3 separate regions of the Homo sapiens genome follow, and all the other regions are linked to region 1. The links come from fine-mapping of genetic effects on gene expression. A gene starts in region 1. Each other region holds a variant in brackets. All regions are shown on one strand. Distances are between the middles of the regions. Region 1 holds the start of SDC1 (syndecan 1). Region 2 has its middle 66 kb from the start of SDC1. Region 3 has its middle 83 kb from the start of SDC1.

What was found. PIP is the estimated chance that this variant, and not a neighbour inherited with it, causes the effect. A credible set is the group of variants that fine-mapping cannot tell apart.
Region 2: its variant is the best candidate, but not a certain one, in a credible set for the expression of SDC1 in fibroblasts (GTEx, PIP 0.69).
Region 3: its variant is the best candidate, but not a certain one, in a credible set for the expression of SDC1 in tibial artery (GTEx, PIP 0.85).

The regions. Positions count from the first base shown.
Region 1 is chr2:20,221,519-20,229,680 of GRCh38, forward strand. It overlaps SDC1 (syndecan 1), which reads right to left and starts at 3,612. Exons shown (of 5, transcript NM_002997.5): 1 at 3,284-3,612. The coding sequence starts at 3,349. RefSeq lists enhancers at 806-1,313, 1,314-1,820, 3,580-4,259, 4,260-4,939 and silencers at 1,979-2,178, 2,589-3,048, 3,069-3,128, 3,169-3,588, 3,649-4,028.
Region 2 is chr2:20,155,097-20,163,275 of GRCh38, forward strand. It overlaps the pseudogene RPS16P2. Among named protein-coding and RNA genes, the nearest start is that of SDC1, 66 kb to the right of the region's middle. RefSeq lists a silencer at 2,474-2,563. The variant T/C (reference allele first, on the strand shown) is at 3,499.
Region 3 is chr2:20,137,685-20,145,863 of GRCh38, forward strand. No RefSeq gene overlaps it. Among named protein-coding and RNA genes, the nearest start is that of SDC1, 83 kb to the right of the region's middle. RefSeq lists enhancers at 1-113, 3,595-4,179, 7,931-8,090. The variant C/T (reference allele first, on the strand shown) is at 3,956.

The DNA.
Region 1 (8,162 bases):
CTAGCATTTTTTGGTTGATAAAGGAAGGGAAATAAATACTTCAGAGAGTCATGCCCAGAGTAAGAATACTCGAGGGTAATAGGGATTCTTAGCTTGATGAAAAAATATGAATACACAGGACACCTCATTCCCAAGGGATTTCAGGAATCCAAAATTCTGCTGCAACAGAAAAGATTCCTCTAAAAAACTGCAGAAGTCAAGCTTTTCATTAATTCTTTCCAGGCTCTCTCCTTTCTTACTGTCTCCCTACCAATGTGTGTTAATGAGGTTTTACTGGAACCCATCATGAGCCACAGGTAGAGACTTAAACCGCTCCACCCTCCCTGTAGAGCTGAAGCCAGGGATGACATCACTTCTAGAAGGCTCTGAGCCTGAGCGGAGGCAGCTAGTGCCTCCCCCCATACCCTCTCTGCCAGGCTGTGGGAAAATGTCTCTACTAGCCCCCATAATTAGGGCAAAAGGGATTTTATGCCTTTCAAGAAAGAGAAGAGAGAAAGAATGAAAAATAGCAAATAACTATTCCAGAACAAGCCATTTTTCTTACATGGCAGAAACAAAAGACCACAGTAAACACACACACACACACACACACAGAGAGAAAGAGAGAGAGAAACCTTTTTAGACAAACCTGTTTTAGTCTCTTGGGAGTGGTTTTGAGCAACCTCCTCTCCTAGCAGCCTCCCCTCACCCATTCAGTCACTCCTTGCTTCCCTGGTCCCCAGGGGGTTTCTGACCTGCTTCCCACTGGGGCCAGAGTGAACTTTCAGAGAGGGTCAGATCTCTGCCACTTGCAAATACCTTCTCCCATCTTAAAGCAAATCCCAGCTGCCTGATTTCTTTTAGGAAAGGGGTATCAGAGCTTTGGGAAGGCAGTGCATGCCCCCACCTTTAACCTAACATGGACATTCACTGTAAGAGGAAGAGGGCAGAACTGGGAAAGAGAAAACAAACTAATCTTTGTAAGATCAGAAAAAGCAAAAAGAACACCTAAGCTTCAAGCCAGAGTCTGACCCCAAAGCTCAGGTGGGGCTTTCAGGCTCAGCTCAAGCACCTCCTCCAGGAAGCCTTCCCTCCCTGCAGCTCCAGGGAGTCTCCCTCCTTTCCCCTTTTGAGACTCTCCTGCCTCCTGGGCCCTATGTCCAAGTTTCTGGGCAAGAAATAATGCCTCACACTGCAGCATCTGCCCCAGCCCACAGAAAACTCCAGGAAAGGCAGTTCACGGGGAAGCCCAAACTCCACCTGCCTCCCCAGCATTAACGGGTGCGGTGGGATCCCAGGGCTCTGGAATGTCTGCTTTACCCCAGGCAGGCAAGGGAACCAGCAGCCCTCCTAAATCCAGCCGGAAATAGGTGGAGGACCCAACTTCAGCCGCCCCTGCTGAGGCCCCATCATGTGCGAGAATGGGGCAGTGAGGTGATGCCCAGCGGTCCAGGGAGGTAAGGCACCCAGCTCCATTCTCTTCTCCAAACTCGGAGCGAAGACTCCAAGCACAGTCTCAGTTCCACAGAAACCACCACCCTAGAGAGCAGCTTCTTGGACCTGAAAGCCAGGAGTGCATGAGACCCAGCTCGGAAATCATGGCCCTCCCCGTGCTCCCAGATACCCCTCACAGTCCAGCCCATTCACAGTTCAATAGGCACAGGGACCTCTCCTGGACCGGAAAATGTCTGGAAGCACGAGTCACCTGGGAAGCAGGGAGGGCGCTTTACACATCGGTCTCAGAAACGACTGTCCCTACCTCATCTCCCATGAGACAGACTCTGTAAAGAAAAAAAAAACCAAAGCGCTCAATAACTGGCAGCTACTACACGAGGCAACGCTTACGGAGGGTCAGCGCTGCTGAGACTTGTCCAGATGCCACATTAGCAGTGGAGAACCCGAGTGCCCACCCCGCCCCCGCCCCTTCCCTGCCCACGTGCCTCCCTTTGCCAGAGCTGGGGAAGTCGAACTGTCCAGATGTAGTGGCGAGACACCGCCACTTCCGGAAGGGGAAGCGCCCCTGGCTCCGCACCTCCCCTCTGCATCCCTGGGGATGGCCGAGCCGGCCCGCAGGAGGGACCCCGGGACGCCAGCACCGGGCGCGGGGGCTGGGGAGGCGAACTCGGGCGGCAGACTCGGGCACCGGGCGGCCCGCGCTGACACCTGGCTGCGGCCCAGGTCCCAGCCCCCGTCAAGGCCGGCGTTACGGGGCTGTTCCCAGGAAAGGGTTACAGGGGCCGAGAACAAAGCGCCCCCATTGGGGAAGGCGGGCTAGCGGCCGGTGGCCGGGGCGGGAGAGCCACTTTCTGGGGACCCTCAGGCTGCTCTTTGTCGGCCACGTCCCTCTTTAGTGGAGCGTCAGCCCCGCTGAAGGTGGATGCTGCATCCCACCCAAAGGCCTCTTACAGCCCCGAGCTCCACATCTGCCCCTCTTTTCTCCCAGCTGCACTGGGCGGGCCAAGGGACCCGCCTTCCCTCCGCGCGGCTTCAGCACAAAGCCGAGCCGGGGAGCGGGAGGCCATTCCCGGGTCCCCTCGCGTGGAAGGCGCCTGCGCCTCGGCCGTGCCCGGCACGGGAACGCGCCCTCCGGGGCCAGCTCAACTTCAGCAGCCCAGAAGTTGGGCTCCTCCGGGTCTCCAGCGTTCCGAGGCCAACTTCCCGGAACCTCCCGCTGCCGGGCCGGCTCAGCTCACCTCGAGCCGCCCACGGCAAGCCCGAGGGCCCTGCAGACGCTCGCCCGCGCCCCCCACGCAGCCCTGGCCCGGCTCCCCGGGCCAACGCGGCCGCCTCCCGCTCCCGCGCCGGCCGCGCTGCGCCCAAACTTGCCCTGGCGCAAGGGGCGGGGCGCCCGGGCTCGGCGGCGCTGGGGCGCAAGCCCGCGGGTCTGGTTTGAATTAGGGTCTGCAGGGGGGGCGTTGTGGCCGCGGTCACTGCATCCCCCCGGGTCACCGACGGGGGCCCGGCCGCCGCGGTGGCCGGGGCGAGGAGGGTGGGAACGGGCGACCCCGGGCGCCGCTGTGGGCTGGCGGGCTCCGACAGATGTGGAGACGTTTTACATAATTGAGCGCGGGGCCCCGGCCCCCCACCCTCCCCAGCGCGGGACCGGTGCGGCACCCACCGACAGCGGAGGAAATTGGGGCTGGAGCCCTGGTCTCGGGGCTCACCGTCCCGGGACCCGCTGGGCTAGCGCGGGAAGAAGGGAAGTCTTCGCTCCCCCTCCCCCTCCACGTGCACCCGCCGGCATCCGCGGGTGACCAGTCCCGGCTTCCCGCCGCCTCCCCGCCTGGCCGCCGGCCGCACTCACCGGCAGGGCCGGCTGCAGGCTCAGCGCCAGCGCGCACAGCCAGAGCCAGAGCGCCGCGCGCCTCATGCTGCCCGGACCGGCGGCGGGAGAGCGGCAGGCTGCGCGGGTCGCGGCTGCGGGCCGGCTTCGCGGGTTCCGCTGCTCGATGCTCTCTTGGGCGCCTGCCCAGCGCGCCGCTGTCCCAGGCGAGGGCTGCAGGGTCCGCCGGCTGGAGTCCGCTCTCTACTGCCGGATTCCTCTCCGCTCGGCTCGGATTCGGCCCGCACCTCTCCCGCCGAGCTCCGCCTTATAATAAACCCACAGGCCCTTCCTTAGCCGTTGCAAAAACTGGCCCCCCACCCCCAGCTCCGCCAGGTCTCCCGGCCAGCCCCAGTCCACACCCCCCAGGACCCCGCCCCCCAGCCACCCCTCCCGGCCCCTTCGGAACGCCCCACCCCCGGCCCGCTCCTAAGGTTCTTGCCTGCTTGGCTCCCGCTCCTCCGGTGGCCGAACGTCGCTTTCGGGAGCTGTGGTCCCCGCAAGCCGCGGTTCCCGGCCTTTCAGCTCGGCTGCTCCCTGGGTGGTGGGGCCGAGGCGCACCCCCTTCTGCCCGGGCCCGGAGTGCGGAGGCGCAGCCCGGGAGAGGGGCTGAAGGGGGGCAGGCAGTCCTCGGGCGCGAGTGTGCAGCGCCCTCTGGGCGTGGACGCGGAGCGCGCTCCAGGTGCGCAGGACTCCTAGCTCTCTTGGGGAACGCTTTCTGGGGCAGGGCGGGGACCCGGGGGCGATGGGGCCTTCAACCGACGGGCAAACACACACAGACACACCCCGGCTGTCCTCCAGCTGCGATGCGGCTCGCTGCGCCCCGCCGGCCCAGATTCTCCCGTACGCTCGCGTTCTTCCTGCACTCCACAAAGTGCTGGAGACTTGGGGCCTTAGTTTAAACAGCTGCACCCGCACGGAAGGGCTGCAAGAAAAAGGGGGACGGGGGCGGAGTTCGCAGCGTTTTTCTGTGGAAGACAACGCCCTCTCTCTTCATCTGAGCTAAAAGGAAAAATAAGTAACTTCTTTGTTCCCCGGTGACCTCGGGCACGCGGATCTGAGGAGCACCGTGCAGTTGCTGCTCCTTCGAGATCCCCTGCGAGGCCCTGGGCCTCAGTTCAAAAAGCTGTGGAAGGCCTGCGGGTGTAGGGGAAACGGCCGAGAGAGCAAAGGGGAAGAACCGGACGGGCCCTGCCCACATCTGGCAGGCAGGAGAGATGGTGCCAAACGACCTTCGCACCTGGGCCCTGAGACCAAAGATGGCGTCGTCCTCCCCTGTCTTCCCTAGGCGGAAGGCAAGAACTTGGGTCGGCCTGAGCTGGGGACCAAGAAAATATCGGGAAGTGTCCAGTGTTCCTCTTTAAAAGAATTAAACCTTCCTGGGCCACGCAGGGACTGACCGTGGGACCCTGGACTCTCCTCCACCTTCCACCGTGGAGCAGGCTCTGGAGCCGAGCAGCCTCCTGCGTCCCCATCTCATCCCCCCACTCCTCCTCACAGCACTAAAAGATGATGGCCTGCTTGTACCCCTGCTCCTGAGCACCTGTTTGACCTCAAAGAGCTCTCGCTTTTGGGGTGTCCGTCTCCCCAAGTCTGTCTAGGGGGCAGGAAGACCTTCATCAGGGTTCTTGGGGGCCGATGTGGGCTCGCTGAGTGCCTGAGTGATGGATGGTCTCACAGCACGGCACCACGGAGGTCCAGCCGAGCTCGAGGAGTCCCTGTGGATTAAAAATGCCCTTTTCGAAGGTTCTACCTCTACCAGAGGGTGGCTCCACAGATCCCTTCAACCCAGTATGGTGGAAAAATAGGAATTTTGGAATCTTACCTTTCTCTACTGCTCACAACAGAGGAAACTGGGGTCAGGGAGGATTTGATGGAGTCTTTTCATTTTTTAAAAGTCACTCACGGCCAAGCGCGATGGCTCACGCCTGTAACCCCAGCACTTTGGGAGGCCGAGGCGGGCAGATCACCTGAGGTCAGGAGTTCTCGACCAGCCTGGCTAACACGGTGAATCCCCATCTCTACTAAAAATACAAAAATTAGCCGGATATGGTGGCAGGTGCCTATAATCCCAGCTACTCGGGAGGCTGAGGCAGGGAGAATCGCCTCGACCTCTCGGGTTCAAACAATTCTCCCGCCTCAGCCTCCTAAATAGCTGGGATTACAGTCGCACGCCACCACAGGCCGGCTAATTTTTTATTTATTTATTTATTTTGTATTTTTAGTAGAGACAAGGTTTCACCATATTGGTCAGGCTGGTCTTGAACTCCCAACCTCAGGTGATACACCCGTCTCGGCCTCCCAAAGCGCTGGGATTACAGGCGTGAGCCACCGTGCCTGGCCCTTATACTTGTCTTCTTGAGTGCATGTGTGAGGCTTTCTCTAGAAGTAGAGCTCTGGATTATAGGTATAAACATCTTCAACTTTCTCAGGAATTGTTGTAAGCAATTGCTCTAAGCAAATTGCTCTCCAAAGGGCTTATAGTAATTTACACTCCCAACAGCAGTTATGAGCATTTCCATTTTTCTACATCCTCCTATGACTTGGTGTTGGGCCTTTTATATTTTGCCAGCTGATGCAAGTAAAATTATATCTTATTGCTGTTTGAGTCTGACCATCCTTCCCATTAGGAAATGTTTTGCTGAAGCCTTTAGTTGCCGACTGGTTGGGCAGACACTTCTGTTTACTTATCACATCTGTTTTCCTCTTTCTCAGTAAGAGATTCCTTAAATTTCAATTGGGCTTATGGCTATTTAAAATAAAGATTACCTTTCCCTGCCTCTCTTACAGCCACGCGTAGCCACATGATTAGGGTCTTGCCAGTGGCACATGAGCAGAAGTGGTACATGCACTTTCAGAAAGGTGTCAAGCATGCTCTCCTTCCCTTTTCTGTTTTCTCCTGGGCGGAATACAGATCTGATGGCTGCCTCTGAAGCAGCCTTCTTGGACCATGAAGTGAACATGGGAACAGAGGCCATCCACAGCAGAGGAACAAGTTAAAGGAAGCATGGGTCCCTGCCCCATGGAGTATAGCGTCATCCCTGGACTGCCCACGCAGACTTATACATGATGGGAAAATGTCTCTTTTTGTTTGTTTAGGACACTGTTTCTCTGAATTTTCTCTCACTTGCCAGCAATTCTAATCCTAAAAATACACTGATGAATTCATTCTTCTGTATAAGACTAAGTGAATCATCTCAGAAGAGTATGGGGAGGACAACTGGAAAAAGGAAGAAGAGGTGCCTCAGGAGGACGGTGAGAGGAATGGCTTTGAAGATGCTGCTACAAAGAGCCTCTAGGAGGCAGCCCAGCCAGTTTCCCAGCCCCAGACTGTATGTTAAGTTTGGGGACAATTCCTGCCCAAAAAAGAGGTGTAGGCTAGAAGGAGCCATGTTGGAGAGGTTTTTCAGAGAACTGTCTGAAGGCCACACTGGCGTATGTCTCCTCTAATGCACCGTAGGATTGGCTCTCACTGGGTCCCAGTGCAGGGGCATGGCCCTGAGTGCCATCGGGGGACTCCAGAGGAAGCCCCTCACCCACCACGGCTGCGGAGCTGTCCTTGGGTCTGTTGTGAGACATGAAGACCTAGAAGCAGTGGAAAGTTTTGGTTTCGTCTAAGGAACGAATATGTTCATCCTTTTTTTTTTTTTTTTGAGACGGACTCTCGCTGTGTCCCCCAGGCTGGAGAGCAATGGCATGATCTCGGCTCACTGCAACCTCCGCCTCCTGGCTTCAAGTGACTCTCCTGCCTCAGCCTCTCAAGTAGCTGGGATTACAGGCACCCGCCACGATGCCTGGCTAACTTCTGTATTTTTAGTAGAGATGGGTTTCACCATGTTGGTCAGGCTGGTCCCGAACTCCTGACCTCAGGAGATCCACCCACCTCGGCCTCCAAAAGTGCTGGGATTACAGGCGTGAGCCACTGTGCCTGGCCATATGTTCATTCTTAGATATTGAGAAATATGTAACCAAGTGTGTCTGCACTTTCGTGCTTTGGCAGCTCCAAATCATCTGGGGATTCAGTGTGCAGCAAGTGGATTGGACTTTATGTCCTGCTTCTCTGCTCTCAACCTCAAACCTGCCTTGCCCCTGTGCTGACTGTCCCTTTCTAACTTATAATTTCCCTTGCCTTCTAAGTTGCCTCTAATATTTGATAGCAGGAAAGAGAGAGAATAATACACCTTTTGTAGATATCATTGGAATTTACACATCCAAATCAGAGTATCTACTTCCCCAAAGCGATCCCCGTAAGGGACCACTTTTATCACCTCATGGTGCCCATCATCCTAGGGAGGCCTAGGAACCCTTTGTCTATGGGAATAACTTTTTTGTTTTGGAGGAGGAGAGTGGAGTATAGTTCATTTATTTGATAAATATGTCTAGAGATGGAGCATTACCCAGTTCCAGGAAGCATGATTCAGTGTCTTCCATGAAAATGGTATCCTGGCTGGGTGCGGTGGCTCATGCATATAATCCCAGCACTTTGGGAAGCCAAAGTGGATGGATCACTTGAGGCCAGGAGTTCGAGACCAGCCTGGCTAACATGGTGAAACCCCATCTCTACTAAAAGTACAATAATTAGCCTGGTGTGGTGGCACATGTCCATAATCCCAGCTACTCGGGAGGCTGAGGCACAAGAATCCCTTGAACCTGGGAGACAGAGGTTGCAGTTAGCCAAGATTGTGCTACTGCACTCGAGAGAAAGAGAGAAAGAGACAGAGAGAGAAAGAAAGAAGAAAGGAAGGAAGGAAGGAAGGGAAGGAAAGAGAGAACGAGGGAAGGAAGGAAGAAAGGAAGGAAAAGAGAGAAAGGAAAAAGGAAGAGAAAGAAAAAAGGAAGGAAAGGAAGGAAAGAAAGAAAA
Region 2 (8,179 bases), 66 kb before region 1:
AGCCAGCAGAGGACCTTGAGAAGGGATGGCCAGAGAAGTGGGGTGAAGAGGCTGAAGAGAGTGAAAAATCATAACATCCAAGAAGAAAATTCTTTTTTTTCTTTTTTTTTTGAAACTTAAAAATCCCTCAAACATCGTTTATTATACAAGTTAATCCTGATCCTTGTGATGAGCTTATTGCTAGGATTTCTTTCTCTCTTTCTTCTCTCTCTCTCTCTCTCTCTCTTTCTTTCTTTCTTTTGAAATGGAGTCTCACTCTCTTGCCCAGGCTGGAATGCAATAGCACAATCTTGGCTCGCTGCAACCTCCACCTCCCAGATTCAAGTGATTCTTCCATCTCAGCCTCCCAAGTAGCCAGGATTACAGGCACCCGCCATCAGGCTCAGCTAATTTTTGTAGTTTTGTAGAGACAGGGTTTCACCATGTTGGCCAGGCTGGTCTCGAACTCCTGACCTCAGGTGATCCGCCCACCTCAGCCTCCCAAAGTGCTGGGATTACAGGTGTGCACCACTGTGCCTGGCCTATTGGTAGGATTTCTAGTAGCGAGCACAGGCACCAGAGCTTCCAAACTTTTTGGACTCACAGCGAAGGAGGCCAGCTACCAGCAAGGTCTGGTCATTCTGGATGAGGGTGTCTTTGATATCCTTCTTGGAAGCCTCATCCATATATTTCTGGTAATAGGCCACCAGGGCTTTGGAGATGGACTGATGGACAGCACAAATCTGGGCCACATGACTACCACCCTTCACATGAACACAAATGTTCACACCAGCAAATCGCTCTTTGCCCAGAGCAGAAGTGGTTCCAGCAGCTTGTATTGTAGCATATGCAGCTCGATCATCTCCAGGTGCCACCCATTCACCTTGATGAGGCCATTGCTGTGTTTGCCGGGCGCCACAGCTGTGGCCCTTTTCTTGCATCCAAAGACCTGCGCATACTGCAGTGGGCCCTTGGACAGCATGGCTACAGGCATACATTAGAGATCCTCACTGCACAGAGCTGCAACCAGAAAAGGAAGAAAATTATTTCAAAAAGGAAATACATTTGTGTGTGTTTGCAATCTTCCATGATACTTTTTTAAATGAGGCAGCGGACACCTGTGTCAGTTGCTGCTGAGAGTTGAATTAAGCGAGGCAAGAGAAATGTACATTTGCATTTTGCAGCATAGAGCCCATCTTGACAAGAGCAGTTTCAGTAGAGTGGTGGAGACAGAAGGGAGCTGGAATGGGCGTGAGTGGCTTAACATGATAATAATAGCTGAACTTATATAAAACTTACTATGTGCCAGACACTGATCTAAGTGCTTTACATATATTAATCTGTGCAACAGCCCTTTGAGATAGGTACAATTATTATCCTATTTTACAGATAAGGAATAGATCTTTAAGTAATTTGTCCAAGATCACACACATTAGGAAATGACAAAACTGGAATTTGAACCCAGACAAAACTGGTTGATCTGGCTCCAGGAAATAGAGGCAACCCTTTTGAGAAATCTTGTTATAAATGGTGTATTAATTAAGATAAGGCCAGATGTTGTAACACATAAACCACCAAAATCTATTTAGCTTGACTAAATAGAAGTTTATTTCTTCTCTTTTAAATTCCAATCAGTGATAGGAGTGGGAGAAGTGAGGATAGAGCTCTGCTCCATACAGTTATTCAGGGATCTAAGCACTTACCTTATGGCCTAGACATCTTCTTCAACACACAGCACCCTTAGTTGCCCTAGGTGTCAACATCAACCTGGCAGAAGAGGAAAGAGAATATGGAGGATCGTGTAGAAGAATTTTATGGGCCATACCTGGAAGTTGCGTACACCACTTCTGCCCACATTCTGTTATCCAGACCTCAGTCACATGTTCTCATGAGTATGCAAAAGGAGCCAGGAAGTGTGGTCCTTGGCTGGGCAGCCACTGCCAGCAGCAGCACTACACTGTGCAAAGAGGCCGTGGATTTTTGGTGGACAGTTGTCTGTCTACCCCATTGAGCAAAGACATAGTGAGAAAGGTATGTGTGAAAGGAGATTTGTTTTTGAATATGGGAAATACTGGAGCATGTTTGTGTACTGACAAGAATGACAGAGTAGGGAGGGGGAATCTAATGATGCAGGAGAGAGAGGATAATTGCAGGAGCAAAGTCCTCAGCAAGGTGATAGCAGGTGAAGGGATTGTCCTTTGAAAGGAGCAGGAGGGAGGCTGAGAGGTTGGCAGGGTGAGGGAAAATTGTTGTTGGCACATATTCAAGGAGGATTGGCGATTTCATCGTGGGAGGCACAGTTGTCCCTGGCTGAGGGCTTCTGGGTTTTTTTGGTTGAAGTGTTAAGAAAGGTCATCAGCTGGATGTGACGTGGGGAGAGGATGTGGGGGATGGGAAGAGCGAGAATGTACGAAATAATCATTTTAGACAGAGAAAAGAAACTTAGTAGAGAAACATTTTAGAATTACCCGGCTGTGTTGCATGACCATTTGAGGTTTGTGGTTATGCATATAAAATGAAAATTACCTCCAGAAGTTGTGTGTGTGTGTGTGTGCTTACATTAATGGTGTCTATCATTCTCTGTGTATTATTTAGCAACTTGCTTTGTGTCTTTCCTGTGTGCTGTACGTTCAGTATTCCACAGAATGGATGCACCAGAGTTTATTCAGCCATTCCCCAGTGATGACAGCTAGGTCATTTCCAGTTCTTTACTAGAAAGCTGCAGCAAGGATTCTTTGCCTGCTGCCTCGTGCACACATGACTGTTTCTCCAGAGGTACACCAAGAAGTAGATTTGCTGGATCATAAGGGAAATAGAAGTTTTAATAGATTCTATCAAATTGCCCTCCAAAGTGACTTTACCAATTGATACTCCCATCAGCAGAATATGAGACTACTGCCCACATCTTCATCTGCCCTACATTCAATCAAACTTACTATTTTGCTTGTCTGGTCGAATAAAAAATGTTTTTTCATTATTTTAATTTACATTTCCTTTATTATCAGGGATATTGCAGCTTCCCATAGATTTTTGGCCATTTGAATCTCTCCTCTTGTGATTTTTCCTTTCATATTCTTTTCCTGTTTTCCTAAGCATTGTTTACTTTTTCATATTGACTTATAGCAGATTTTTACATATTTTGAATGTTGTTTGTATATTGTAATTATTACAATTTTTTTAGTTGGTTGCTAGTTTTCAATTTTGTTGATGGTGTCTTTTTTTTTTTTTAAGAGACAGAGTCTCACTCTGTCACCCAGGCTGGAGTACAGTAGTGCAATCACAGCTTACTGTAGTCTCAAACTCCTGGGCTCAAGTGATCCTCCCGCTTCAGCCTCTCAAGTAGCTGAAACCACACATATGCACCACTACACCTGGCTTTTTTTTTTTGTGGAGACAGGGTCTCACTCTATTGACCAGGCTGGTCTCCAACTCCTGGACTCAAGCAATCCTCCCCTCTCAGCTTCCTAAAGTGCTGGGATTACAGGTGTGAACCACTGCACTGGGTCATGTTGATGGTAC[T/C]CTTTGATGTCGTTAAATTTATTCATATCTTCCTTAATGCTTTTATATTAAGTGCCTTATTGCACAAGCTTTCCCTATCACTAATTCATAAAAATAATATCCTATATTTTCTTCTAATTCTTTTGTAGTTTTTTAAATTAAAGTCTTAATTTTGAGATAATTGTAGCTTCACATGCAGTTGTAAGAAGTAATACAGGAAGATCCATGTTCCCTTAATCCGGTTTCCCCCAATGGTAACATCTTGGAATATCACAACTAGGACACTGATATTGGACTCGACGTTGATACAGTCAAGATACAGAATGATTTCCCCACCACAAAGAGCCCTTGTGTTGCCCTTTTAGAACCACACCCACTTCTCTTTCCCCCACTCCTTTGTCCACTGCCATCCCCTCTTTAACTCTGGCAACCACTAGTCTGCTCTCCATTTCTATAATTTTGTCATTTCAAGAATGTTATATAAATAGAATCAACTGTATGGGACCTTTTGAGATTGACTTTTTTTCAGCCAACATAATGCCCTGAAGATTCATTCAGGTGGTTTTGTGTATCGATAGCTTCTTCCCTTTTATTGCTGAGAAGTAATCCATGGTGTGCTTGCACTCCATTTGCTTAACCATTCATTCATTGAAGGATATCTGGGTTGTTTCCAGTTTGCAGATATTTTTGTACAAGTTTTTGTGTGAACATAAGTTTTCATATCCCTGGGATAAACATTGAAAAGTACAATTGTTAAGACTTGTGATAGTTGCACACCTAGTTTTTTAAGAAACTTCCAAATGATTTTCCAGTGGCTATGCCATTTTACATTCCCATCTGCGAAGTATAAGTGATCCAATTTCTTCATATCCTGGTCAGCATTTGATGTTGTCACTATTTTTTATTTTAGCCATTTTGATAGATGTGTGTTGATATCTCATGTGGTTGTCTTGGCACTTTCCTAATGGCTAAGGATGTTGACCATCTTTTCATGTGCTTATAACCAGGAGTACCAGGAGTACACTCTCTTTGGCTAAATGTCTGTTCATGTCTTTTGCCCATTTTTGAATTCGATTCTTTGTTTTTTATTGTTCAGTTTTGAGAGAAATGTATGTATTCTAGGCTCTAGTCCTCTGTGTTTTGCAAATATCTTCTCCCAATCTTTAGATTGTCTTTTTATTCTCTGTACAGGGTCTTTCACAAAGCAAAAGTTTTCAGTTTTGATGAAGCCCAATTTATTGATGTTTCCTTTTATGGATAATACTTTTGGTGTCAAGGCTGAGAACTCTGTCTAGCCCAAAACCACAAAAATGTTTCTCCCATGTATTTTCTTCCTAAAAGTTTTGTAGTTTTAGGTTTCACATTTATGTTTGTGATTCATTTTGAGTTAATTTTTTTATACAGCCTGGAGTCTAGGTCAAGGTTCACTTTTACCTATGGATGTTCAGTGGTTCCAGGACCATTTGTTTACAAGGCTATCCTTCATCCATTGGATTGCGTTTGCATCTTTTTCAAAACTCGGTTGCGCATATCTGTGTAGGTCTATTTCTGGATTTTCCATCCTTTCCCATTGATTTATGCTTCCATCCCTCCACCAATATCACACAGTCCTAATTATCATAGCTATATAACATCTTGGAATTGGGTAGACTAATTCCCACTTAGTTCTTCTTTTTCAAAAAAAGTATGTGTATATATTATTTACTTCATATGCTTTATCACAAAACCACAAAAACAATCTCCTACATTTTATCCTAATTCTTTTGCAGTTTAAAAAGATATATTTAGTTCTTTAAGTAACCTGGAATTTATTATTATGACTGGTGTGAAGTAGAAATTAAACTTGACTTTCATTTTCTGCAGTTGTTTCTCCTAAAATATTTAATTGAATGTTTTGTCACTCATCTGAAATACCAACTGTATCATACACTAAGTTTCTACATATTCGAGGGTCTGTTTGTGCACTCACTATCCTATTACTTTGGTCTATTTGTCTATTTAATCCTATATTATTTTTAATTCTCTAACTTCATAATATGTTTTGTTAAAGTAAATTAAAATGGAGACCAGACCTGAAGAATCCCTACACAGACAAAGGCAGTTAGGATAAGTGACCTTAACCTTGTTTGATTTGTAAACATGAGTGAAACTTAACCTGGGCCATTTCTTATAAATACTTTTTTTTTTTTGAGACAGGGTCTTGCTCTGTTGCCCAGGCTGGAGTATAGTAGTGCCATCTTGGCTCACTGCAGCCTCGATCTCATGGGTTCAAGCAATCATCCTGCCTCAGCCTCCTGAAGTGCTGGGATTACAGGTGTGAGCCACTATACCTGGCCCCAAATGCCTATGTCAAAGAAAAATAGAATTTAAGCTCAACTAATCGGAAGCAGCCAACAAACTTATATAACTGGGAACAGTTTCCAACAGGATAAGCCAAAGAAGGCAAGTGTATAACTACAACCAATCAAATTTTTTTTGCTTTACTTCCCTTTTCATCCTATAAAAGCCTCCCTCTTGTAGTCCCTCAGTGAAGCTTCCCAACCACTTCTGGTTTGGAACCCAATTCATAAATCTCTGTCTACTCAAATAAACTTATTAACATTTTGTTGTGCCTCAATTTACCTTTTTAATACTTTTTTTTTTGACAGAATCTTGCTCTGTCACCCAGGCTGGAGTGCATGGCGGCATCTCGGGTCACTGCAGCCTCCACCTTCTGGGTTTAAGTGATCCTTGTACCTCAGCCTCCTGAGTAGCTGGGATTACAGGTGCACACCACCATGCCCGGCTAATTTTTTGTATTTCTTGTAGAGACAGGGTTTTGCTATGTTGGCCAGGCTGGTCTCAAACTCCTGGCCTCAAGTGATCTGCCCACCTCGGCCTCCCAAAGTGCTGGGATTACAGGTGGGGGCCACCATGCCTGGCCACATTTTTAATAGTTTTGATATCTGGCAGGATAAGTTCCCCTTTACTGTTCTTCCTTTTCAAAAGTCTTTTCTTATGCATTTTTTCCATGTGAATATTAATCATCATCTGTCTATTTTAATGAAGAATTCCAGTGAGATGGTTGTTGGGATTGCGCCAAATTTATAGATAATTTTATAAGGGATATTTTTATAATATTGAAATTTCCCAATGTAGTAGAATATATATCTCCCTTTATTTAGGTCTTTTATGTCCATCATTAAGTTTTACTGTTTTCTTTGTAAGTTTCTTGCATTTCTTTTTAGGACTGGTACTAAATATTTTGTGAATTTTAATTGTGCTGTACAGAGGATTTTGTTAACATATAATATCAAGTTGGTCACTATCATATAGGAACACAGCCTTTCACATAGCTGTTCACATGAGATACTCAGGAACCTTCTGTGGTAAGCAATGTTTGAACTGTCTTGTGGAAGAAGAGACTGAAGCTCAGAGAAGGAAGCCTGGGGCCAAATGCGGGTCCCCCAGGTCCAAGTGCCAGGCACAGAAAGCTTCCACTCCAGGGAAGGCTCTCGAATGTGCAGACAGTGGAGCTGCAGGGTCTCCCTTTGGCTTACAGAGTGTGGACCCAGCAGACAGTTCCTGGCCTCCCAGCGAGGCTCCAAGAAGACCTAACTACAGCCCCATTTCCCCGCTGCTTCATCTTTGTCTGTCACAGGCAAGGTCTGCCTTTCTCTTCAGGGGGACAAGTGCCTGGCTCTGTGACCAAGGCAGAGCCCAACTTGGTAAATGGATGCTATGGTCATTAAAAGATTAGAGGGTCATTAAACTATGGGTTTGGTGATGGGGGTCAGGTGGCTGAGCATTCCCTGAGGACAAGGTGAGAGATTAGTATGGAGGAGACTGGTTAGAACCAAATTCCTGGCTTGGGCAGCAAAGGGGTTCAGGAATGAAGGAGACCAGCCCTCAGGTTCCAGGGTGAATAATGACACCCTCTACAGGGAGGCAGGCCAGAGAGCAGGAATTGAGGGGTCGGGCCAGTGGTTTGGGAGGCACATGAGGTGGGGTGCGGAGTGGGATGGTCTGGGAGCCTGAGGAGCAAGAGAGCTGTAGATCACATCTGTGGGTTAGAAGTGAGCTAGGGGAGTTTATCATGTGTGTGATCCTTGGCTTCTCTGTTTATTTCCTTGCTTATCTCACTCAGGATTCATCATGGTGTCAGTAAAAGACCTAGCCTGTGTGAGGAGGCCAAGCGAGGCAGGATGGGTACCCTGGGGCCAGCATCTTGCAGAGGTGTCAGTGGGAAGCAGGATGAGGGAGTTCCTCAGAAAGAAGGAGACTCACGGCTGGAATCCCACCTACTCTTCTTTGCCTGAAATACTCATTTCGGTTGCACCATGCAGATTCAGGGTTTGGTACTAATGAAGATTATTTAGCTTCTTAGCTTTGTGATCATAGCTATTTTCCCAACTGCAAAATAGGGATAATAATTCTACCAAGTTCCCCAAATTGTAGAATGCTCATCACTGGAGATTTGGGGTGGTATGATAGATTATTTTATATAGTACATGGCCATACCTTTAAACAATGATAAATAACATAGTGAGAAATACATCCCTTTTTTCTTTTCCCCCAAATTTGCCTGATGACATAAGGAGAAAGTCTCCTCCTCAGAATGCCTCAGCCTCAAAAAGGGCATCCGAAAGGCAATACAATGATAACATCGTACTGAATTTTGCAGATATTCATGACAAGTGATAATGAATATAAAACTTCCTTT
Region 3 (8,179 bases), 84 kb before region 1:
TGGTGGCTCTTATTATTAAAGCTGGCCAGGATGTCCCTTCTGACCCCCAACCCTCCAGTTCCCATAGTGCTGGGCCTTGTAACTGTCACTGTCCTGTGTATGGGGTCAGGCTCTGGCCTCCCTCCCTCGCAACCCCTTCGGGGCAGGGTGAGAGTAAACAGGTCCCCTAGGTGTGGGACAGACGCCCGCTGCCCTCCTCCTGCCTTATTCATTCTCTCCAAAAACATTAATCACTGGTGGATGGACAAACTGTAGGGCACCCGTATGATGGAATGACCCCAGCAATAAGGAAGAACAAAATAGTAATACAATGAATGACATGGATGACTCTCAAGGCACTGCGCTGAAGTTCAGCAGTTAAATGAAAGCCGCCTAACTCAAAAGGCTGCAGACTCCGCCGCTCCCTGCGTCTGAACTCCAGGGAGGGCCACGCTGCAGCCAGAAAGCAGGTCAGGGCTTGCCTGAGGTGGGATGTGGGAGCGGGGATTGATTGCAATGGGGAATGAGGGAATTTTATGGGGGGATAAAAAAAATCAATGTTTCATTTGATGGTAGGTAGGTGGCTATTTCCATTTGGCAGAGCTTATCAAACTGTATGCGTAAAACAAGCAAATTCTACAGTATGCAAACTACACCATAACGAAGCTGGCAGAGTAAAGACCTTCCAGTTTGGAAACTATGATCTGGGAAGTGACCCATATTGCCTGGCCAGATACACGAGGGAAGAGTCATCTCCCTAGGAAACGCTTAAGAAAGGCTCAGTCCTTAAAAGAAATAAGAAACTGAGTGACCAGAAAAAATGAGGGAGAATTTGAAGAAATACAGTACCAGGGCATCATAGAAGAGCTGGCTTTAAATAGACTACAGATAGTGCACTCAAGTCTTAGTGCATTTGTACGCTGCCTGAATTACCTGACCTTGGTCCCTTATCTGATATCCTCATCCCCCCGGGCTCTACCTGAAAAAAAAGCTCACACGCATCTTTCATAAATAATAAGAAGCTATCCTTTAATGAGATGATATTTTATCTCTCCTGGCCCAGGACGGGGAAGGCGCCCGGCCCCTCTTGAGTCACCAGGCTCTTATGCAGTGGAGTTTCTCTCCTCTGCTTGCTTCCAGAGCCTTCTGCAGGCTACCAAGACAAAGCTTTCTCCCATTCCTCTGGGCCCGGTCCTTCTGCTCTCTGCTGCTGCCCTCTCTGTCCCCATTCCTCCTCTGCCTCTGGAATGATAGCATCTCCCAGTGGCTTTCATGTTGGAGTGCTGGCTCCTTAACTTAAGGTCAGCTTCTGAGGGCAGAAGGCTTGTCCCATTTTCTCTCCTTCCCTCTGCCCTCTCCTTTGGAATAAACGCACACATTCACCAATGCAGCCATTGACTGTGTGGCTCGCCCACACTGTTCAGGAGAGAGGCCCAGCTCCATCTAGCTTGAGCCCAAAGGAAATTTATTGGGCCACATTCCTGAGAAGTCCAGGACGTGTCAGCTAGGTTGAGACACAGCTGGATTCAGGATTGACAATCTCTTTTCCTGTCTCACTCTCTGTCTGCCTCTGTCTCAATGTCTTCTTCCCTTCCTCTCCTCCCTTCCCCTTCTTCTCCCTAATATCTTTCTCTCTCTAAGTAAGTATCCCCTGAGTATACTTCCTCACTCCTCCTTAAGCCCGAAAACAAAAGAACAAGACACAATAAATCCCTCATGTAAATGGTCATCCCTGACCTGGGGAAGTCCAAGATATCAAAAGCACAGCCTATTATTTTATCTATTCTTTCTAGTTGTGTATATAGCTGACTTTTCTGCTAGACTTTCCTTGTGTCCTCAAGGTGCCTGGCACAGGCCCAGGTACATGGCAGCCCCCAGCCCCACCCCAGATAGGATGTGACACTTGGTTGGGGTGAGGTCAGAGTGGGAAAGGGAAGAATCAGGGTCGGGGATGGGTCAAGGCTGGGGAGCGGCTGAGGGGAGGATCCTTTTGAGCTGTTCATTCCCTCCTGGTATTTTTGCCCATGAGGCCCTGCAGAGTAGGAACAAACTCCGCACATGCCTGTCTTCCTCCCAGAGCCCTCCACCCCCAATAAGCATCAGCCTGGGGGGCTGGGGCTGCGGGCTGAGGCCTGGGACAGAGTCCTGGTCAGCATCAGCCTAGCTGATGCCAATTAAGACCCAGGAATCCCCTGCCCCTACCCCTGGGCTCAGATCAAAAGACCTTGGCCCTCAGATGAGGGGCTCCTGACCATAAATCTGAAGGAGCACGGCCCTCCAGCTAATGAGCTGTCCTGGCTCAGACTAGAGCAGGGATGCCAGATCCTGTTTCATTCCAGGGTGCAGCCAGCCCAGAGTGAAGGGCCGCGGGAGGCCCTAGACCCCAGAGTGCCCATCCCCCCACAGCACCCGGCTTTGCAGGGACAGGCCCCGCTCTGCTCATAATCCCTGGGGCAATGTCCTGGAGGGTACATGAGAATGCACACTGTTCCCTGGGCTCCTGCCCTGCCGGGCCCCAAGATGGCTCCCTGTGCCCACCGTTTAGCCCCACAGGAATTTTAACCGCTAACATCTGGGTTCAGGAGACTCCGGAAGAGCAAACGTCTTCACCTCCTTTGATTCCCTTCACACAGAGGGCTTTTTCAATTTTAATTTGAGGTGACCTCTGACCTGAGTTCCCATTCTCATAGATTCCAGATATTTCCTGTGCCCTCAAATAACCTCCAAGCCTGCCCCCACCTGATCAGAGCCCCTGCGGAGGGGGCATGGCCTTCACCCACCCATGGCCCAGGCTAGGCTGGGAGTCCCCCTGGACTCCGGCCCCCTCCCCATATCCCACTCTGTTCCCCCAAAGATGCCTGCACAGCCACCCACCCACCAGTATCTCTCCAGGGCTCTCAGCTCCAGTATCTCAGCTGGGCCCAGCTGAGCCTGCTCTCAGGACACGAGGGATGGCAGACACCCCGGTGCCAACCTCTCTGGCTGTCATGTTTTTTAATGACAACAATCATAGAAACATCGGTGGAGCCTCTTCTCTGTGTCAGGTGACCCAGTAGCTCAAGAATAATTGCTCCTAATTTACAGATGAGGAAGCCGGCCCTGGAGAAGAAGAGGGACTTCGTGTACACACAGCTAGCTGTGGCCAAGCCAGACCATAACTGAGGTGTGTCAGCCCGGAGCCCGGTGCCCTCCAGGAAGAGGGGTCAGCAAAGGGATGCTGGCATTGGTGCATCTCCCCTGCTTTGTGAGTCCTGGTTTGGGCTGCCCATCTCAGCGTTGTGACCATCAGCACAAAGCACCAAGGGTCTTGGCAAAAGGCAGAGATGACAGAGAAGTGAGAAGCAGGCATGGGGGTGGGAAGGGCTGGTCAGACCTCAGCTCCGCCCCTGTCTCTTTCCAAAGTAGCTTTTGGATTGAGGTGGATAGTTCCCTCAGTTCCCATGAGGAGTCCAGCACGGTGCTAAGCTGGGCTGTGCAGGGGGCTACAAGAGCAGGCAAGTCCCAGTCCCTGTCTCAGAGGGGCTGAGAGACAAGCAGAGGTACAGGGACATGAGCAAGGCAGCCCCAGGACCAAAGTCAGGCCGAGGGGGTCAGGCTGGGTAGGCTGCTTGCAGGTAGGGAATTTGCTGCAGGTCTGGGTTACAGAGAGGCCCAAGTCCCATGCCCACATGGTGCTAGGTCAGGGCCCTGGCAGCCATCCCTCTAGGATGGCCACTCCCAACAAGGGCCTATGGCTCTCCAGAGCCCAGAACCTGAACACATCCAGGCCAGAGCCACGGGATGATGCACTGGCCCCTGCCCCATGGGTAAGAGGCTGAATGGCACATTAGGCAACCTCTCTGGCTCCAAACCCCAGCTGGCTGCCAGCCTCAGCCTCCTAGTCGATGGTTTGACCACATGACTCCCCATTAAAGCCTTTCCCTGGCTCTCCATCCTGCCCCTCGTCATGCCCGGTGACTCACGCTGCTTTTCCAGG[C/T]CCAGCTCACCACGGCTGACATCACCTTCAGCTCCACCCCTTTCCCAGCAAACCCTGATGAGCCCTCTCTTTCCTCTGACCCATTGTCCTCCTCGGAATCAAGAATGCTAGAGCCAAAAGCTATCTCAGGGAACATCTGGAGCAGCCTCACTTACAGCTGGGGAAACTGAGACCTGAGAGATGCCCCGCTGGCGTTTGTTCTAGTTCAGAGGCTGTGATTCATTTAGAACTTTAATGAAAGGATTTAGGGCTCAGTTAGGATCTTAGGGCAAATCATCGCTGCTCTGCCAGTAACTAAGCCCTTACCCTTACGCCTGCCCAGCAGGGTCCTGGAAATCAATCTCCAGATTCCGCCGGGTCCAGGGCTGCCCCATAGGTGCTGAGGCACTGGAGACAACAGGAGGTCTGGGATGGCCCCCAGCCCCTCCCTCTACCCAAATCGGGGCATGGCTAATTCTTTCTCTAAGAGATCCATTGCTTTAAAGTCCAGAGTAGAAGGGAAGAAACAGGTGTCAATTTCTGCCAGGAAAATGAGATCGAGCTGCAACCTCAGAGAAGCCTGGAGGGGTACTGTTAACGGGAACCCTCTGAGGCTCTGGGGCTGAAAAGAAAATCAAGGAGGAACAAGCAATCAAGGTTTTCATGGAAGCCTTGGGCTTCAGAAATAAGGCATCCCTGGAACGTGGTTTCTAAAGCATCACCTGAGAACTTGGGAGAAATAAAAAATGCAAATCCTCAGGCCCCACCTGAGACCTACCAAATCACACACTTTGTTTTGGGATCCCTCAAGCCCTCCAGATGATTCTGATGCATGCTCAAATTTGAACACCACTGCCATAAAGGACAACCAAAGCAGTAAGCAGGTCTCATAGCTGGTCAGCCCTGTTGGTCCTGGCCTGTGGTGGGTTCGCTGAGGCTCCACAGCCCGCTCTGCTTACCCATGTTATGGACCCCTCCCAGCCAAAACAGGCAGGATTTCTGCAGGCAGCTTATTCCAGAAGGGCTTGGAATGAGCCTTGTGGCCCAAGATGTGCTCTGGGAACATGGAGAGCCTCAAAGTCACCCACCCCTTCCATTTGCCTCTGCCCATACAAAAGGAATTCTGCCTCAGTTTCCCTGCTTTTCATTCCAACCCACCACTGGCCTTAGAACTCTGCCCTGGACCTCAGCCTGCTTCCCTGGGCACTGTTACCATGCCATGCATGGTGGCTGGCCTCCTCACCGAGGTCTCATCCTGCTCCTGTACCCCAGCTGCTGACTGAGGTGATTTGCAGACTGACAACACATTTATTACTGTGCTGTGGCTGCCCTGGGCCCCCAGGTACATGTGTGTGGATTGTCTACTGAACAAGGGCAGATGGCCAAGGAAGCAAGTGGAGGAATGAAATCCAGCTCACTTTCCACTCACCCACATCCCCTAGGGCGAGGTGGCACTAATTTGCAGGTATGCATTAGAGGGTCTAGTGCTTGAATGTCACACTCCCTTTCCCGAAGCTCCTGTTTCTGAGGTGACCCTCCCCTCCCCCTGCCTTCCCATTTCTACACCAGCCAGACCTCCCTATCTCTTCATGTCTACACCAACTGGACACCCACCCTTTCAAACGGGCCATGCCCTCCTTATCTTCTCTCTTAGGGGTCTCTTGGCTGGCTCAGTTGTCCCACCATTTCTCTCCTTATTCCTCATCCTCACAGACTTTCCCGTCATGTTGATGATGACATAATAACCAGCAGACAAAACATCTTTGTTGATAGAAGTTTGAGGTCATTTCATTACAGCATCTCCTAAGACATTCCATTCAGGGACGTGCCTGCCAGGCTGCTGGAAATGCCTGCCTTTTATGGCCTGCTTGGTTTGGTCACTTGTAACTTCTGCACATGATAGGCCCTGGGCTCCCTCTACCCTAGGGCAACCCCATAGAGACCTGAAAATCCTGTTCACGACTTGCCCCACCCGAATCTTGTCTTCCCAGCCCCTTGAATGAGTCCATGTGTGGCTTGGGCTCTCTCATCACCGCAGGTTAAACTGCCATGTAATTGATTTTTTTTCCAGGCAATTGAACACATATCAGTAGGCACCTAACTTTTCTCTTTTAACCACTTGGATTAAGAAAAATCTTTCCAAAACATAATATATTCTTCTCTACCTCTTGGAATAAATGAAAGCAGACATAATGTGCTTTTTCTTGGGGCCTCTACATAATAATAGTTTTTTTGAGCTACTGTAAAGTGTTTTTAATAACTCAAATCACTTCATAATCACCATGGGGAGAAAACAGAAAATACAGATATATAGAAAGGAAAAAGAAGGGCATCCCTTGATATCTTACCAGCTGGAGGCAATGACTAATAACTTTTTGTTGTATAACTTTCTGGGCTTTTTCCTAAGCAAGCACAGTTCCCCAGTTTGGGGTGCAAATGTAATCCCTCTTATTTATTCAATAATTGCTTGAGCTCCCATACGCCCATATTAACAGGAAGTCATGCCTCTTTACCCCTTCTTACCCCTTATTCCTCACCCACTCCCCCAAGGAAATTGGGGCCAAACTTGGTCCTACAGGTAATTCTGATTGCAAATGGCAATCAGAGAGAAACTGGAGAGTCAGGAGGTCCTGATTTCCATTGTTTCTTGCACAGTACCATGTGTCTCTAAAGAAAATGGTCTTGCAAAGTCTGATGAGATCCTGCCTCACTGGTCCTGACCCTTATGTGGTCCACAGAGGTGTGCCAACTTTGGGCTCCAAGGCCACTGCTCTTGTAAGCTCATACTTCCAAGGTTAGCCAGGCTCCCAAATAGCGCACAGCCCTGGTAGAGCTGAGCCCAGGAGGGCTTCTGTCCTCAGCCACACTCCATGCCACAGGAATATGGAGGCCCTGGGGTTGAGCCTGGTCACCAACTCTGACCCCCTTTCTTCCTGGTGCCATTCCCTTGAGGGGCTGTGGGGATTCTATTCCTGGGGCACTTCATCTCAAACTTCATCAGGAAAATTCCAACTTTAACACGGCAAACGTCTTTGTCTTCATCTCTTTCTTCCCAGATGTTCCTTGGCCCCAAGCAAATTATCTCCCTGCTCTTCCATGTAGGGACTAGAGGGTCCTGCACTCCTCAGGCCACCCAGGAACCAGTTCCCCCTTGCCCCACTAGCCTAACATGTGAATAGCCAAGAGGGACCACTCAAAGGACAGTTTCCTGAACAAAGAAGACCTGTTCTTAACCAGCTGGATAAAGAAGGAGCTGATGGCAACTTTTATTAAAAAGAAAGAAAAGTTCCGAACCAGGAAACTTGCCATACACCCATTCGCCAGATGACAACATTGAGATTACTCACTTCTTGAAAGAGCCCAGCCTCTAGCACTGGACATTTATCACAAAGCATTTCCTTCTTGCGTTGGGCATTCCTCTCTTGCTAGGAGGAACTGAGACTTCCCGTCCCCAGTCCCAGCCCTGAGGCCATGCAGCCTAGGGGTGGCTGGATTGAGCACTGCTTACTGGATTCAGGCCAGAGACTGCCACATTTTGTCCTCTGCTGCCTGGGTTAGGGAGACCTCTCCCTGTCAACTCAGGGGCATGGCAGGAGCGGGGCTGGAACAGTCTCTGCAGTCAGTTCCCTCCTGGACCACCGACGCTGGGAATGCAAGGGGTGGGTAGTTTGGTCTGTGCTTATGTGTTGATATTGTGAGATCATTTGAGAGAATTAAATATATTTTCCCAGATGGAAAGAAAAGGAAAAGGAAGGGGATGTTGAGTGTGGGAGCTGTTCATTCTTTCCAGCTTCTCTCCTTTCCCGCCATCCCACCCCACCTGTGGACCTGTGTTTGGCATTAGGGCACTCCTCTGTGCTTTGCTGGATTCTGATAGGGAGCACAGCCTGGTGTGGGGGGTGGGAGGACGGATGGTCTGCATCTTCCCTTCCCCTGCTCCAGTCCTTAGGCCAGTGCTTTCTGCACTGGGGGGTCAGGGGACATTGAAGGTGCCAGTCCAAATGCCAGTCAACACTGTGGGCAGGCCTGGCCAACACTGTCTGTGGATGCCAGACTCTGGGAAGAGAAGCACCCACGCTCAGAGATGGCCCACTCTCACTGGGCTCACAGCCAAACACACCCAGTTTTCTGGCCTCGGGCTGGGTGGGACAAGTGTATATCTCACCTGACAAGCCCTGTGAGCCTGACAAATGGAGGGAAAAAGCCACGACAGCAGCACCTCCCAGTGATCCGGAAGCTGGAGGA